2 separate regions of the Homo sapiens genome follow, and region 2 is linked to region 1. The links come from fine-mapping of genetic effects on gene expression. A gene starts in region 1. The other region holds a variant in brackets. All regions are shown on one strand. Distances are from middle to middle.

What was found. PIP is the estimated chance that this variant, and not a neighbour inherited with it, causes the effect.
Region 2: its variant is the best candidate, but not a certain one, in a credible set for the expression of ZDHHC20 in whole blood (TOPMed, PIP 0.53).

What each region holds. Positions count from the first base shown.
Region 1 is chr13:21,455,680-21,464,020 of GRCh38, reverse strand. ZDHHC20 (zDHHC palmitoyltransferase 20) reads left to right here and starts at 4,718. Exons shown (of 13, transcript NM_001330059.2): 1 at 4,718-4,967. The coding sequence starts at 4,850. LOC124903131 (a long non-coding RNA gene) reads right to left here and starts at 4,474. Exons shown (of 2, transcript XR_007063713.1): 1 at 3,842-4,474; 2 at 3,375-3,638. RefSeq lists a cis regulatory region at 4,477, an enhancer at 4,393-4,562 and a silencer at 4,426-4,805.
Region 2 is chr13:21,429,092-21,437,432 of GRCh38, reverse strand. All of the region lies in intron 1 of ZDHHC20 (zDHHC palmitoyltransferase 20), which reads left to right. Among named protein-coding and RNA genes, the nearest start is that of ZDHHC20, 26 kb to the left of the region's middle. The variant C/T (reference allele first, on the strand shown) is at 4,019.

The DNA.
Region 1 (8,341 bases):
TTTATTTTGAGTGAACTCTAGTTCTGATTGTTGATTTTTATTTGCATCCTTTTTCAGTATTAGATCTCTTCATGTGTTTTAAAATTGTGGTTTAATTTTGAACTAGTGAATTGTTTGTATTTTCTTCTTCACTCTTTCCACATTTATATGTACATGGTTTCCATAAACCCCGTCTAATCGTTTCATAGCTGCCTCTACTTGCCCTCATTCTTCCCCAGCTCTCAGTCCAGAACTAGAATTTAAAATGGTATTTTCAGGTTCCTGGATGGTGGTTATAATGGGGAAACCACAGATCTAGTCCCCAGGCTAGTTGGCAGCTTGGTTTACTTCCAGGTTGGGGAGCTGCATGGTGTCCTCCAGTCTCCATGAAAAGCCATTATCCTAGAGATCAATCAGCACAATTCTCTTTTGTTAGAGAATGGAAAGGGATAGAGGTTGGGGATGAGGGTTTGAGGCTGACTTTGTCTTTTGTTTTCTATCTACCATTGCTATGTTTTGGAGTACAGTGGGTACATCAAAGCTGGCCTGAAGTCCTAAGTAGCTTCCTTGTTTTTTTTTGGAGAGAGTCTTGCTCTGTTGCCCAGGTTGGAGTGCAATGGCGTGATCCCAGCTCACTGCAACTTCCACCTCCCAGGCTCAAGCAATTCTCCTGCCTCAGCCTACGGAGCAGCTGGGATTACAGGCGCCCCGCCACCATGCCCAGCTAATTTTTTTTTTTTTTTTTTGTATTTTTAGTAGAGATGGGGTTTTACCATGTTGGACAGGCTGGTCTCAAATTCCTGACCTGGTGATCTGCCCACTGTGGCCTCCCAAAGTGCTGGGCCCACAGGCGTGAGCCATCGCACCCAGCCCTAAGTAGCTTTCTTATTACCTTCTCCACTGCCACAAATCAAGGTCAGGCTAGCATCATCTCTTGCTCTACGACTGCAACGGCCTCCCAACTGGTTTCCTTGCCTCTAGACTTTCCTCCCTCCAATCTGTTCTTCTTACCACAGCCAGAGTGATTGTTATAAAATGTAATTCTGCTCACGTCACTACACTGCCTAAAGTCTTTAAATGATTCCCTGTTGTCAAAACCAGTAGCAAAGATGGAGTGAAATCACAAGCCCAACATGGAAATGGAAGGAAGGGGTTTAAGATACTGGCTTCTATTGCTCACAAGCAAAGAACATTAATTCATGTCTGTAACCATTTACGACAGAAAGAGTCCAAAATAATAAAAATATTGCCTCCTCAAAAATGTGTCTGTCCTCATTGTACAAGGACATAGATCAGAAATATTCTCTAGATCCCACATAAATCACCTTAGAATATGTGGCAGTCATTTAGAAATCAGAAACTGGTCGGGCACGGTGGCTCACAAAAAATACAAAAAATTAGCTGGGCGTGGTTGTGTGTGCCTGTAATCCCAGCTACTGGGGAGGCTGAGGCAGGAGAATCGCTTGAACCAGGGAGTCGGAGGTTGCAGGGAGCTGAGATTGCACCACTGCACTCCAGCCTGGCAACACAGCAAGACTCTGTCTCAAAAAAAAAAAAAAGAAAAAGAAAAAAAAGAAATCACAAGCTAATGTAATCTGGTTGGCAACGCCAGAAGTTAGGAGGAGTAACTGGATAACAATAGAAAACTTTAAATATTTGTTCAACAATTTCTTACTAAATATTTCCTACTGCAAGTCACTGTGGATGTGCAAGAAATACTTTCTACCTTCTAGAACCTTACAAGGTAGTAGGCAAGATCACATATTTCAATGAGTATCAAAACTATTGGCTGAGCGAGGTGGCTTAGGCCTGTAATCCCAGCACTTTGGAAGGCCGAGGCAGGCAAATCACTTGACTCCAAAAGTTTGAGACCAGCCTGGCCAACATGGGGAAACCCCATCTCTAGCAAAAATACAAAATGCAGGCCTCACGTGGTGGTGCACGCCTGTAATCCCAGCTACTCGGGAGGCTGAGGCATGAGAATCACTTGAAGCTGGGAGGTGGAGGTTGCAGTGAGCCAAGATCACGTGACCGCACTCCAACCTGGGTGACAGAGCAAGACTCTACTGAAAAAAAAAAAAAAAAGAATGTGGCCTTATTTGGAAGTGGGCCTGTTGTAGATGTAATTAGTTAAGATGAGGCCATACTAGAGTAGGGTAGGCCCTTAACCCAATATAAGGGGAGAGACAGGAAAGGAGAATGCCACCTGAGGATAGCGGTAGATATTGGGGTGATGCCACTGCCACTGCAGGTCAAGGGATGCCATGGACTAATGGTCACCACCAAAGGCTAGGAAGAAGCAAAGAAGAATTCTCCCCTACAAGTTTCAGAGGGCACATGGCTGTGTTAGGTCATTCTTGCACTGATATAAAGGAATACCTGAGACTGGGTAATTTATAAAGAAAAGTGGATTAATTGGCCCACAGCTCTCCAGGCTGTACAGAAAGTATGGGGTCAGCATATGCTTCTGGTGAGGCCTCAAGAAGCTTCCAATCATCAGTTGGAGACAACATTGGAGACAACAGCAACAGGAAGGTCCCTCTCACCTTCCTCTCGCTCTTCTCCCCTGAAGCAGGCCATAGCACTAGCAAAAGCGTCTCAGGCCTTCCCCTGAAGGCAGACCTAAGACTGTTATTCAAGAGGTGCCCTCCCTCTACCCAGACAAAGGAACATCCTTATCTCTGAAGACACAGGACCACAGAGATAGACTTCTGCCTTCTCGGCAGAAGGCAAAGGGGAGCCAGCATGTCACATGGCAAGAGAGGGGGCAAGAGAGAGAGTGGGGGAAGGATCAGGCTCTTTTAAATAACCAGATCTCATGTGAACTACTAGAGAAAGAACCCCTCATCCAAGGGGATGGCACTAAACCATTCATGAGGGATCCACCCTAATGATCCAATACCTCCCACCAGGTCCCACCTCCAACACTGGGATCACATTTCAACATGGGATTTGGAGGGGACAAACATCCAAACCATATCCAATATCCTTGCCAACACTTTGATTTGGGACACCTACCCTCCTAAACTGTGAGACAACCAATTTCTATTATTCCCCAGTTTTGTGGTACTTTGTTATAGTCACCCTAGGAAACGAATGTGACAGTTTTATAGTTAGGTTATAAACAAAATGTCGTGAAAGATCATTTCTAGCAGCCCTGGAGCTTGTAAAGGACATGGCTTTGTGCTGAGCTCTAGCAGCATGGTTTTGGTACGTAGAGATGACATAGAGGAGAAACGGCTTTATGTTCTTCCATGTCCATCCGAATTCTATGTTGAGGTCTAACCCTCCTAAGCAGCCTCTCTGGAAAACTAGTTGAACTTGAACCTAAACCTACTGTCAACTAGGCCACTAACTAATATGACTTTTAAGGCACAAAATCAGGGAGAACAGAATCTTTTATACATGCTTTATTACTCAAGCAGCAGTGTGCAGTGATTAAATACTTACTCGCTTTTACTACATTTCTCTGACACAGCAAAGGGTGACGTCTTCTTCATGGAGACTTTAGTGAGCAGTAGCTAATTTAAAGCTCAGTGTAGGCCGGTCGTGGTGGCTCACACCTGTAATCTCAGCACTTCTTTGGGAGGTGGAGGCGGAGAGGGGTTGGGATTCCTTGAGCCTTGGAGTTCAGGGCCAGCATGGCAACAGGGCGAAACCTAGTTTTTACAGAAAATACAAACATCAGCTGGGCATGGTGGCGGGCCTGTAGTCCCTGCTACTCTGCAGGCTGAAGCAGGAGGAGTGCTTTAGCAGGGAGGTCGAGGCTTAAATGAGCCCAGGTCGTGCCACTGCACTCCAGCTTGGGCGACAGAGCGAGAAGACCCTGTTTCAAAAAACAAACACAAAAATTCATTCTAACCAAAACTGAATGCTAGTAGCAGGAACTGGTATGAAGATTGCGGTCTGGAATCCCTTCTAATGCGTCTGACCTTGCATTGTGAAGTCTTCACAGTGATGCTTCTGGGTTCTATATGATTATCGTCATTGCTTAGCAACCTCTAGTTGTAAATAAATTCTTTAAATTTCCTTAGTCGTTTGCGGGGCAAGGAGAGGGTCATTTACATGCCCTTTCCTTCTCGCTACTCAATCTTAAATTTGGGTTACGAATCAAACTGATGGACCCTACATGGCTTCTACCCGAAATTACAGGTATCTACCGTTCCATCTTCAAGAAAGGGAGGGGTTCCGCCAAGATGGACGAACATAAAAATCACAGGAGGAGCCTTCTAACAATGTGCATTCTTCGCACACTGAGTGGGGAATGGCCTTGTCATGTTTGAAACAGTGCCCCAACTACTCAATGTCCCAGGAACCCCAGTGGAGCGAGTTCTGTACACAGAGAGGGCCAAGATCCACAAATCAGCTAAGGAATCATTTCCATAGTCTCCCTCCCCTATTGAGTCTCGATCCACAAAAGCTATCCCCTGTCCCTCTCATCCATCAAGGGCGTGTTTTTCGCCTCTCCTTCCCCGGCCTCCCGCGTCCGCCCAGCCTGTCCGCATCCAGCCCCGCCACGCCCCATGGGCGGTCCCGAGCTGCGGCCCCGCCCCCTCACCGCCTCCCCGGCCGCGGAAACCCCGCCCCAACGACGCGGAGACCGGGGGCGGCCCGCGGCCCGCGGCGGGCGGGCTGGCGGGGACGGACGCGGGGGGAGGGGGGCGACGGGATGTGGGGTGGGGGCGGGGCCTGGCTGGGCGCCGGGACGGGAGGAGTCCCGGCGGCGCCTCGGACTTTTGCTCCCACAAGTCCTGCCTCGGAGGCGGGGGAGCTGGACCAGCAGCCGCCTGGAGCGTCCGAGTCACCGTCGCCGGGGCTCCCGCGCTCCCCAGAACGGTGGGACGCGGGGCTCGGCAGCCGCCAGCGGAACATGGCGCCCTGGACGCTGTGGCGCTGCTGCCAGCGCGTCGTGGGCTGGGTGCCGGTGCTCTTCATCACCTTCGTGGTCGTCTGGTCCTACTACGCGTACGTGGTGGAGCTCTGCGTGTGTGAGTACCGTCCCCGGGGACTGCGGCGGGGCGCGGGCCGCGGCTAGGGCGCGAGATAGGCCTCTGCGCCCCACACCCGCCGCCTTTCTGGAGCCAGCGCCGGACGCCGGGCGTCCGGCCCCGAACGCGCTCGGAAGCGCCGAGGTTGCTGCACCCGCCGCTTTGTTCAATCCTGCGGCGCGGCCTTGGGGCGACCTGGGGCTCCTGAAGCCTTGCGGCGGCTTCCCGGGTGCAGGTCTGGCCCAGGGAGGCCCCAAGAGCTTCCTGGTTCCCGCCGACACCGGGGGTCTGCATCCTTCTGGGAAGGAACGTGCAGAACGGGAGTAGTCGAGCTTCTTAGAAGGTTTAGGTTGTGTTTGTGGCTTTTTTGGCTTTTGTTCATTTTTTTTAAAAAACCAAATCTGTTCCTTCTGGATTGTTTTTGTTCAAACTGCGCGAGAAGAAACGCCTGTTACCTGTAGAGCCGGCTGTGGCGGGTTGGGGGAAGGGAGGTGTGTCTTTTGGTGGCCTCGGGCTGGAGGCGGGTCAGACCTGGAGGACGAGTAAGCTCCCACTTTTGATTTTTGGTGGTACTCGACTCATTGTAAAATTCGTTTATTTCTACTCTGAATCCAGCCGGCTTTTGCAGAAGGTTAAGACAGAAAGAATGGGTGGGAGGAGACATAACCTGATTATTTTTTTCTTGGCTGATTATTAAGGAGGCTTATATTTCTTATACTCATATTTTGGCGTGTTAATTTTCGTTACTTCCATTTTCCTGATAAGTTCTTAGCACAAAATTCTCATCTGATTCCCTGGAAAAAAGGAGTAGCATTGCAGTATACTTCAAGGATTTAACCTACTGGCTTGAATTGGTTGCCTTTAAGATTGAAGGAAATTGGTTGTCATTAATCAAAAACACTGTTTAGGGGTGACTGCTACATTTGTGATATTGGGCAATTTCTCCAACATTGTTTTGTCTTAAGTAAATTGTTCTTAGGCTTTGAGTATGTGGGTATTTTACACTTAAACTGGCCTCAACTAGGGTGTTCTGTATACATCTGCTGCCTATATCAATTTTTTATGAAAACCTAGGACCAAATGGTAAGTGGTGTTTGTAAACGTTATTGTTATTCCAGAATGTTCTACTCTTAGTCCTTAGACTGAATCTACCATTTTATGAAGGACTGTTAAGTGTTCTTTGAATAACGAACCACATCAGCTAGAAACTAATGTTATGAATGAGAAGAATCTGTACCACCCACTCTTGAAAGTGGCAGAATCAAGACTTCAATTATGTTTGGATTTGTACAGCTTTCAACCAAGTATTTGGTTAAAACCCTAGTTCTATACATGGAAGAGAATGCTTTGGCTCAGAAAATTTATAAGTTTTGAAATTAAAACATCCAGTTTTAAAATTACTTTGTACCTATAGAACGTTTAATTTTGGGACGACTATCCCTGCAGGTAGGCCCAGAATAAATTAGTTGTGGAATACATTTCCAAATAATATTAATCTTTTCAATATCATTGTTTAGTCTCATGCTTTTGGATACCAGAATGTTTACTAAAAATGATGTTTGAGTCAATTAAAATTACTAGATTTTAATATTTCTGGGAGCTACTTCCAGAAAGTGGTAGTGATCATAGGATTCTCATCAACTTATGATGATACCTCCTTTATCTTCTTATTTACTCTGAAGTGGGCATTTATTCTAAAAGTTATGTCATTCCTATTCTGTCAGAAGATTATTCCTACCGTATTTTAATTCCCGTAGTGGTTTTGAAGTAAAGCTGAAGGAACACTAAAAATGTGCATTTATGTTGAGATTCCACAGCTTAACCTGTAGATGGTTTTTGTCAAAAATATTAAGAAATGAGATCAAACAGTGCTGTGAAAAGTCTTAAATTGCTTCTGATTTCTTTCACCACTTCAAATAAAGAAGGAGAAATGAACATGAATTGAGAAGTGCCATGTGCTAGTGGGCATAGAGGGGACATTTCATTCACCCTCTCCTTTAATTCTTTCAGTATGTCACAGCATAGGTATCTCTACAGGTGGAGGACGTGAGACTGAGCGAATAGGTCCTTTTGGTTAGGTCACACAATTGATTATTGGAATGTGACCCACATCTTTCCGTTCTTTCATATAACTTCAGTAAGCTATGAGGGTCAATGGAACTGTAATTGTTTGGTCCATAATGGTGTGGGGGGATAAAGGGGTTGGCATATTTTTGGAGATCACTTAGTTAGGCTTGAGGCCCATTCTGTAGAGATTATACCCTACAATTTCATTAAGTTAAAACATTCTATAACTATGGCCTGATGCTTGGCAGAATCTTAAAATATTTGGTGGTGAAAGGTCTTATGTAGAGGCTGTATTAACTTCTGAGTTATCTCATTTTAACTAGAGAGAATTTGGGAGGTCTGCAGTGTCACTGGAGTATAAAATAGTTGAGCATAAAAGTGCATTTACTCATATTAAAACTATCCTTTAAACTACTTGTATGTATTTGTTTTCATAAGTACTGACCCTCCCACTGAAATATGTATAGATATATTACTTTATAGGAGGACTTAAATGGAGGGAAGTGTGAGTTTTACTTAAAAGTGCTGTTTTAATACTTTTATAGGATATTCTTTTTATTTATATATGTATTTTTTGAGCCAGAGTTTCACTCTTGTTGCCCAGGCTGGAGTGCAATGATGCGATCTTGGCTCACTGCAACCTCTGCCTCCTGGGTTCAAGTGACTCTCCTGCCTCAGCCTCCCAAGTAGCTGGGATTACAGGTGCCCGCCACCATGCCCAGCTAATTTTTTTTGTATTTTTAGTAGAGACGGGGGTTTCACCTTGTTGGTCAGGCTGGTCTCAAACTCCTGACCTCAGGCAATCCACCCACCTTGGCCTCCCAAAGTGCTGGGATTACAGGCATGAGGCATTGTGCCCGGCCTATAGGATATTCTTAGATTCTGGTATTCTTTATCAAACTAGGAGGAGAAGATCATAATTATATCTTTACATGTATGTATTAATTCATTTAATCTTAATAATGATCCCCATAAGGTTAAGTAATTTGTCCACGGTTATAGAGCCAGTAAGTAGCATGGTAAGAATTGGAATTCAAGGGGTTTGGCTCCAAAGCCCATGCTGTTAACCACTATACAATTAATGACTAATCTATTTGGTGTCCAGATCTGGACACTCAGGGCAGATTTCAGTCCTGTATATGATATATTTATATAAAGTACTTTTCTCCTAAAAGGCAGCTGCAGAAGATTCCTAAATATCTCAGACAATAAAAATACCTGGCCCACAGTTGGCTGTAAGTTGAACAAATTGTTGATTACCAAGAGGCCCTCATTCCATCTTACCCTCTGTAACTTGCTAATTGTGT
Region 2 (8,341 bases), 27 kb after region 1:
ATCTGCAGCGAGCATCTGTTATTTAGTGTAGCCACTGATATGGCGTGGCTCTGTGTCCCCACCCAAATTTCACAGTGTGAAAATGGACTAATATAGCTACCTTCATCAATTATCTCAGCTAGATCTTCTGAATAACTTGCTGCAGCTTTTACATAAAAACTTGCTGCTTCGTCCTGTACTTTTGTGTTATGGAGATGGCTTATTTCCTTAAACCTCATAAATCAACTTCTGCTAGCTTAAGACTTTTTTCCTGCAGCTTTCTCATCTCTCTCAGCCTTCACAAAATTAAAGAGAGTTAGGACTTTGCTCTGAGTTAGGCTTTGGCTTAAGGGAATGTTTGTGGCTGGTTTGGCTCTCTGTCTAGAAAACTCAAACTTTTTTTGTATCAGCCTCATTGCACTTTCTTATTCATCTATTCACTGGAGTAGTACTTTTTTTAAAATTAATTTTTTTTATTATACTTTAAGTTCTAGGGTACACGTACACAACGTGGGCCAAAGTTAGTGCCACTCCACTGGAGTAGTACTTTTAATTTTCTTCAAGAACTTTTCCTTGGCATTCACAACTTGGCTAACTTTGGCCCAAGAGGCCTAGCGTTTATCCTGTCTTGGTTTTTAACATGTCTTTCTCACTAAGCTTAGTCATTTCTAGCTGTTGATCTAAAGTGACAGGTGTGTGACTCTTCCTTTCACCTGAACACTTAGAGGCCATTGTAGGATTATTAATTGGCTTGATTGCAGTATTGTTGTGTCTCCGGAAATAGGGAGGCCCAAGGAGACGGAGAGAGATAGAGGAATGTCTGGTCAGTGGAGTGGTAGAAACACCACATTTATTAAGTTTTCCATCGTATATGGATGCAGTTGGTGGTACTCCAAAACAATTACAATAGTAACGTCACAGATCACTGATCACAGAGCACCAGAGCAGATATTATGATAATGAAAAAGGTTGAAATACTGTGAGAATTAACCAAAATGTGACACGGAGACACAAAGTGAGCACAAAGTGTTGGAAAAATAGCACAGATAGACTTGCTTAATGCAGGGTTGCCACAACCTTCGATTTGTAAAAAACATAATGTCTGCAAAGCACAATAAATCAAAGCACCTTATGAGATGTGCCTATATGTATTTTCAGCAAGAATGTCACAGAAGTAATGCTGTGTCATTATAACATTTTGGGGACCATTAATGTTGATCAACACCCAAGGTAGTGTGTGCTATGTTTCTCCATTCTATAAAGGTACAGTTTTTCTTTGTAATTAATATTCTATTAGACCACCACATCACACGGATTCCTTTTTGAGGAAGGACTTGTTGCTCAGTTTTGGTCAGTGCAGTCAGCAGATAGCTTCCAGCACTTTCTGCATGACTCATATCACCCAAGGTCACACCCTTCCTGGTGCAGCTTGCACACAATGCCTGAGTGAGATGGGGTGGAACTGCCCACTTCAGAGCTCCCTGCCGGTTGCTGAAGCCAGGACTATATTGCAGTGAGATTGCTCCCTTAGCCCAATTATACCTCTTCCCCCTTCCTTTCACATATGCTGGTCCCTAGTAAATACATTGCACCCCAAACTCTGTCTTAGCATCTGATTCCAGAGAACCCAACCTGAGTCATTTCTTATTGGGAGACATTTTGAAACCCTGTGAATAATCTGTTTGTTATTACTTTCACTTACTCCTTTTAGCATCTATTGAGAATTCTTGCTTGAAACAGTTATTACTGTCCTGGTTGCCAAATGGTGGTTTTCTAATTCCATGATTTCTTCTACATTTACTAGTTAGAATTCTACTGTATGGAAGAGATTATCCTTCTCCCATTTACTTATTTATTGATTCACTCACATATATCAGCATGCACCGGCAAATTCTATTTTGTGAATTATAATCTAACACGTATTTTATTGTTCAATTTGTCCCAGATTTGGCCAGTAGGAGCCAGTTTCCATCTTGTTTCTGTGTGCTTTGATGTGTCCTTATTGTTTTTTTAGTACTTCCTTTCTTTCTGGCAATATATTTCAGCATTGTTTGATACTTTTCCTGCCCCTGGAATTGGTCATTTCAACAGGGACCAAGAATGAATATAAAAAATGGAAACATTCAAGCATTAGAAGAAAATATGGGTGGATGATCTTAAGGCAATGAGGAAAGCCTCTAACATCTCAGAATCACCAAGCACAATAGAAAAAACAAACAAACAAAAAAGTAAGCAGATGTTTCACAGGAAAAAAAAAATGAAAATGACACATAAGCATAAGAAAAGATACTGACCCTCACTTATAAGATAAATACGAGGTAAAATTATCCTGCCATACCAAAAGATTGAAAACTTCATTGAGTAGACTGCAGAGAAACAGTCAGTTTCATTCATTGCTGGTAGAAGTATAAAATGGTACAACCCGTATAAAAGGGTTTTTGCAAAAAGCTAAAGACATGGTGGACAGATTTACTTTTGGTTCAGTAATCCCACTGTTAGGAATCTACACTGAAGATAAACTTCCACAAATAAACAACACATGCACAAGGTTATTTATTGCAACATTGTAGTGGCAAAGGATTGGCGACAACACAGATGCCCATCAATAGAAGGCTGATTGTATAACTGGAATATCCACACAACGGAATATTGTGCAATGCTTTAAAAAAAAAAAAAGGATGTCTCTGTGTGCTAATGGGTAGCGATTTCTAGAATTTGTAGGACATTTCACAAGACATCTGGCCTGATCTTTTCAAAAAGTCATCATCATATGGATTTAGGGAAGATGGTGGTAATAGTACATTATTTTTGAGTCACTCCAAATCACTGCATAAAAACAGAACATGAACAGTATCTGTAGCAAAACTAGTTTGCTAGAGAATGACAATGAGCTTCAGACAACCAAATTGACTGCAGAGATACAAATTAAACTCTAATATGAACATTAAATATTTATTTTCTTGTGGACCCAAGACTAAGACTAAATGAGGAATAATGTTTGTAATGGATACTATATGCTTTAACAATTTTGATTCAGCACAACTACTAGAGAATGGAGAGAGAATATATGAAAAAATTATTCAAACTTTTAAGTAATCATATTACTGGCAGTGTTATTGTCATTATCTCGAGATTATTGGGTAAGCAATATGGGGTATTCTAATTCTTCATCCCTTGTGTCCTTGAGAACCAGAATTCTCAATGGAAAAAGGAGATACAAATGTGAGATAGAAGATGTTAAGTAAAAACCCTGTAGACTTTAATTTTAATTGGAAATATCGGTATCAACTTATCAGGTATTTAATCTTCCTTTTAAAATGGTGTGCACGCACACACACAGACACACAGACACACACACACACACACGTAGGAAAGGAAAACAAACCCTGTTGATTACCAGACTAGTCATTTATGTAGAAAATCCCAAAGAAACTGCAAACAAGCTACTAGAACCGAAAAGTGAATTGAGCCAGCATACAAGGTCAATAAAAAAACTAAAACATATTTCTAAATACTATTCTATAGCAATGAGTAATTAAAATTGGAATTTTTAGAAATGCTGTTTATAATAGCATCAAAAACATGAAATATTTTAGGGATAAGTCTAATAAAATATGTGCAAGATTCTGTGTGATAGAGAAAATCTAAAATGGAGAGCTACGCCATGGTCATGGGCTGTAAGACAATATTTCAAAGACATTACTTCTCCCCAAGTTGATCTGTAAGTTCAGCCAGTCAAAATCCAGGCATCAGCCAGCACTGGATCTCCCAGAACAAACAAACAAAAAACAAAACCAGGCAGATTTTTGTTTGTGAATTCCCGCCTCCCACCCCCACCAGATGGAGTCTTGCTCTGTCACCCAGGCTGGAGTGCAGTGGAGTGATCTCGGCTCACTGCAAGCTCCGCCTTCTGGGTTCACGCCATTCTCCTACCTCACCCTCCTGAGTAGCTGGGACTACAGGCACCCGCCACCACGCCCGGCTAATTTTTTGTATTTTTAGTAGAGATGGAGTTTTACTGTGTTAGCCAGGATGGTCT[C/T]GATCTCCTGACCTCATGATCCGCCCGCCTCAGCCTCCCAAAGTGCTGGGATTACAGGCATGAGCCACCATGCCTGGCCTTGTTTGAGTATTTTTTTAAGGAAATCAATAAGATGAGTTTAAAATTTACATGGGCCAGACACAATGGCATGCAAGCTGTCTAGCTACTCAGGAGGCCTATAGTCCTAGCTACTTGGGAGGCTGAGACAGACAGACTGCTTGAGCCCAGGAGTTTGAGACAAGCCTGGGCAATACAGCAAAATCCTGTCTCTAAAAAAGGTAAAAATAAGTAAGTATTTATATGGAAATGCAAACCTAAAATAGCCAAAATACTTTTGAAAAATAATAAGTTGGAGGACCCATACTATCTGATTTCAAGATTTACTGAAAGCTATATGTAATCAAGACTGTAGTATCTGAGTAAGAATGGACATATAGACCAGTGGAACAAAATAGAGTTCAGAAATAAACCCTTACACGTATAGTCAGTTGATTCCCATAAGAAAATTCCAGGTTAATTTAATGAAGAACAAATAGTTATTTCAACTAACACTGTAAGAACTATTCACCATTCATATGTAAAAAAATTAACCTCAACCTTTACCTGTACCATATACAAAGTATCAACTTTTTAAAATGGATTACATGGGGGGGCATGGTGGGTCACACCTGTAATCCCAGCACTTTGGGAGGCCATGGTAGGCGGATCAGTTGAGGTCAGGAGTTCAAGACAAGCCTGGCCAACATGGTGAAACCCTATCTTTATTAAAAATACAAAAAAGTTGTCCAGGAGAGATGTCTCATGCCTGTAATCCCAGCACTTTGGGAGGCCGAGGCAGGTGGATCACGAGGTCAGGAGATCCAGACCACCTTGGCTAACATGGTGAAACCCCATCTCTACTAAAAAACACAAAAAAAATTAGTCAGGCATGGTGGTGGGCGCCTGCAGTCCCAGCTACTCAGGAGGCTGAGGCAGGAGAATGGTGTGAACCCAGGAGGCAGAGCTTGTAGTGAGCCGAGATCACGCCACTGCACACCAGCCTGGGCTACAGAGCGAGACTCTGTCTCAAAAAAAAAAAAAAAATTAGTGGGACACTGTGGTGCATGCCTTTAGTCCCAGCTACTTGGGAGGCTGAGGCAGGAAAATGGCTTGAACCAGGAAGCGGAGGTTTTAGTGAGCTGAAATCGCACCACTGCACTCCAGCCTGGGCGACAGAGCGAGATTCTGTCTGAAAAATAATAAAATAAAATATGAAATAAAATGAGAGCAAGACTCTGTCTCAAAAATAATAAAAAATATGAAATGATATAAAATGAAAATGAAATATATTACAGACCTAAATATAAAACCTATAAAACTTCCAGAAGAAAACATATGAGAAACTGTGACTTTCATAGGTTGGCAAAGATTTCCCAGGCATGAATGATAAAAGAAAAAAATTGATAAATTAAATTAAGACTTCATCAAAATTAAGAGTTTGTGCTCTTCAAAAGACACTGTTAAAAATATAAAGAGGCAAGTTATGGCCTAGGAGAAAATATTGGCACACACATATCAAGATTTGTATCCAGAATATATGAAGAACTCATGACTCAATAAGCAATACAGTTAAAAGAGGGGCACCATTGAACATATAACTTCACAAATAAGGGATAGTGATTGTTAAACACATGAAAAGATGCTGTAGTTATTAGAAAAACACAAAAGTGAAATGAAGATACCACTGCATATTTTTTAGAACAGCTAAATTTTAAAAACTGTCAATTCTAAGTATTGGTGAGGATGTGGAGCAACTATAACTCTGATCCATTGTAAGTGGAAGTGCCAAACACTTTGTGCCAAATACAGCCACTTTGAAAACAGTTTGGCTGTTACTGGTAAAGTTAAGCACATATTTAACATTAGACCCAGCAATCCCATTTTTAGATATTAAGTAATGAAAATTGATATTGTTTGGCTGTGTCCCCATCCATATCTCATCTTCAGTTGTACTCCTGTAATTTCCCCTGTGTTGTGGGAGGGACCCAGTGGGATATAATTTGAATCATGGGGGTGGTTTCCCCCATACTGTTCTCGTGGTAGTGAATGAGTCTCAAGAGAGATCTGATGGTTTTATCAGGGGTTTCTGCTTTTGCATCCTCATTTTCTCTTGCCTCCACTGTGTAAAAAGTGCCTTTTTGCCTCCAGCCATAATTCTGAGGCCTCCCCAGCCATGTGGAACTGTGAGTCCAATTAAACCTCTTTTTCTTCCTAGTCTTGGGTATGTCTTTATCACCAGCGTGAAAATGGACTAATACAAAAATATTATGTCCACCCAAAGGCTTGGTGAATACACGAGTAATCATAATAGACAAAAAGGTGAAATCACTCAAATGCCTATGAACTGATTAATGGATAAAGTTGTCATACCTCCATATAACAGAATGCTATTCGGCAGTAAAAGGACAAGCAGGGACTTCCAGTTCTGAGACAAGATGAAATAGAGACTTCTTCCTTTTCTTAGTAAGTACAGCTAAAATCCATGGAAAGTGTGCAGAAAACAAACCTGAGGAGACTCTGAAAGGTATCAAGAAGAAGCCAGATCAGCTAGGGACCTTGCGACCTGAGGAATAACATGGTGGTGTGTTCCCTAGATTTTTTTTTTCTTCATATATGTGCTAGAGAAGCTGTCAACCTGGAAACACCAATGAATACAGACCAAAACAAACCCTAGAAAAGACCAGTTTTATTAGTCAAGCCAGGAAAGGGACAACCTAGTAAGACAGAAAACTTGTAGACAATAACTGCCCTACTCTAGCCAAAAACAATAGACAAACTGTGCTCCATCCCCCACTCTCACCAGCAAAGACTGAGTATTGAGCTTAAGACCTCTCCTGCTTGCCCAGCTGTAACAAGACCCCCCTCCTGTGTCTCTTCCCCAGTATTCCTGCTGGGATAGTATCAGAAAAGGTGAAGCCCTAGTCAGGAGCCTAGATTTTCATTCCCACTGGGCAGTAATGATGTGTCCCTTCCATCCCCCCACCCCAAACAGTAACAAGTTCCCTCTCATGGTGTCAATGGAGGCTATCTGGGAAGCACTAAGGAGGCACCTCTACCCTTCCCAGCCAAGATATGTGTGCAGAAGCCTAGCAGGGAGCTGGGACTTGGACTCCCACCTGATGGCAACAAGGTGGTGCTCCCACATCTCTCACTGCACGGAGTCAGACGAGGCCTGCAAAAACAAATTTAAATAAGATCTAGAGTCTCAGCATAATACTAAAACATTTCAGGATACAATTGAAAACCATCCATCCTACCAAGAACCAGGAAAACTAAATGAGAAAAGAGAATAGATACTAAAACCAAAAAGACACAGATGTTGGAATTACTTGACAAGGACTTTAATGCAGCTATCTTTAAAGTGATTCAATTTGCTATTGAATTATGAAAAAATAGAATTCTCAACAAAGAAATAGAAGATGTAAAGAACCAGATGGAGATTTTTAAACTGAAAATACAATAGCCAAAATTTTAAAAAGTCAACTGAACAGCAGAATGGAGAGGGCAGAGAAAAAAAGTGAAGTGAATGAACTTGAAGATAAAACATTAGAAATTACCCAATCTGAACAAAAGAGAGAAAATATACTGAAAAATAAAAATGAACAAATCATCAGGGACTTGTGGGACTATTTTTAAAAGTTCTAATATTTGTACCATCAGAGTCCCAGGGGAGAAGAAAGACGATATGGTTGAAAAGGTATTCAAAGAAATGATAGCTTAAAATTTTCAAACTTGGCGAAGGACATATTCAAGAAGAACTTAAGAAGTTCAGCAAACTCTGAACAGGAAAATCCCAAAGAAATCCACTCCAACATACATTATAACCAAATTTCTGACCACTAAATATAAAATCTTGAAAACAGTGAGGACACTTTACCTATAGGGGAAAAACAGAATAACAGCAGATTTGTCATCAGAAACCGTGGAATTTAGAAGGAAGTAGTACATATTTAAAGTACTGAATGAAAAGAACTGTCAACCCAGAATTCTATATCCAGCATATAACTGGCCCATCAAGGTTGAAAGTTGACAGTTGTACATTCAGATAGCACATCCTCACATTATAAGAATTCAAAGCAAAAACAGGATAAAGGAAATAATAGAGCTTCTTTCTCACGTGCTTCTCACTTGTTAAGGAGGGCAAAAAAATTTTTTCCCAGTGACAGTTTTTCCCTCCCTCAAGATGTATCCATTTGCAAGAACTGGATCCCATAGCCATAGTAGATACAAGTATACTGATAAAGTGAGTATCTGATATTTTCAGGCTCAATAAGTGGGAGACAG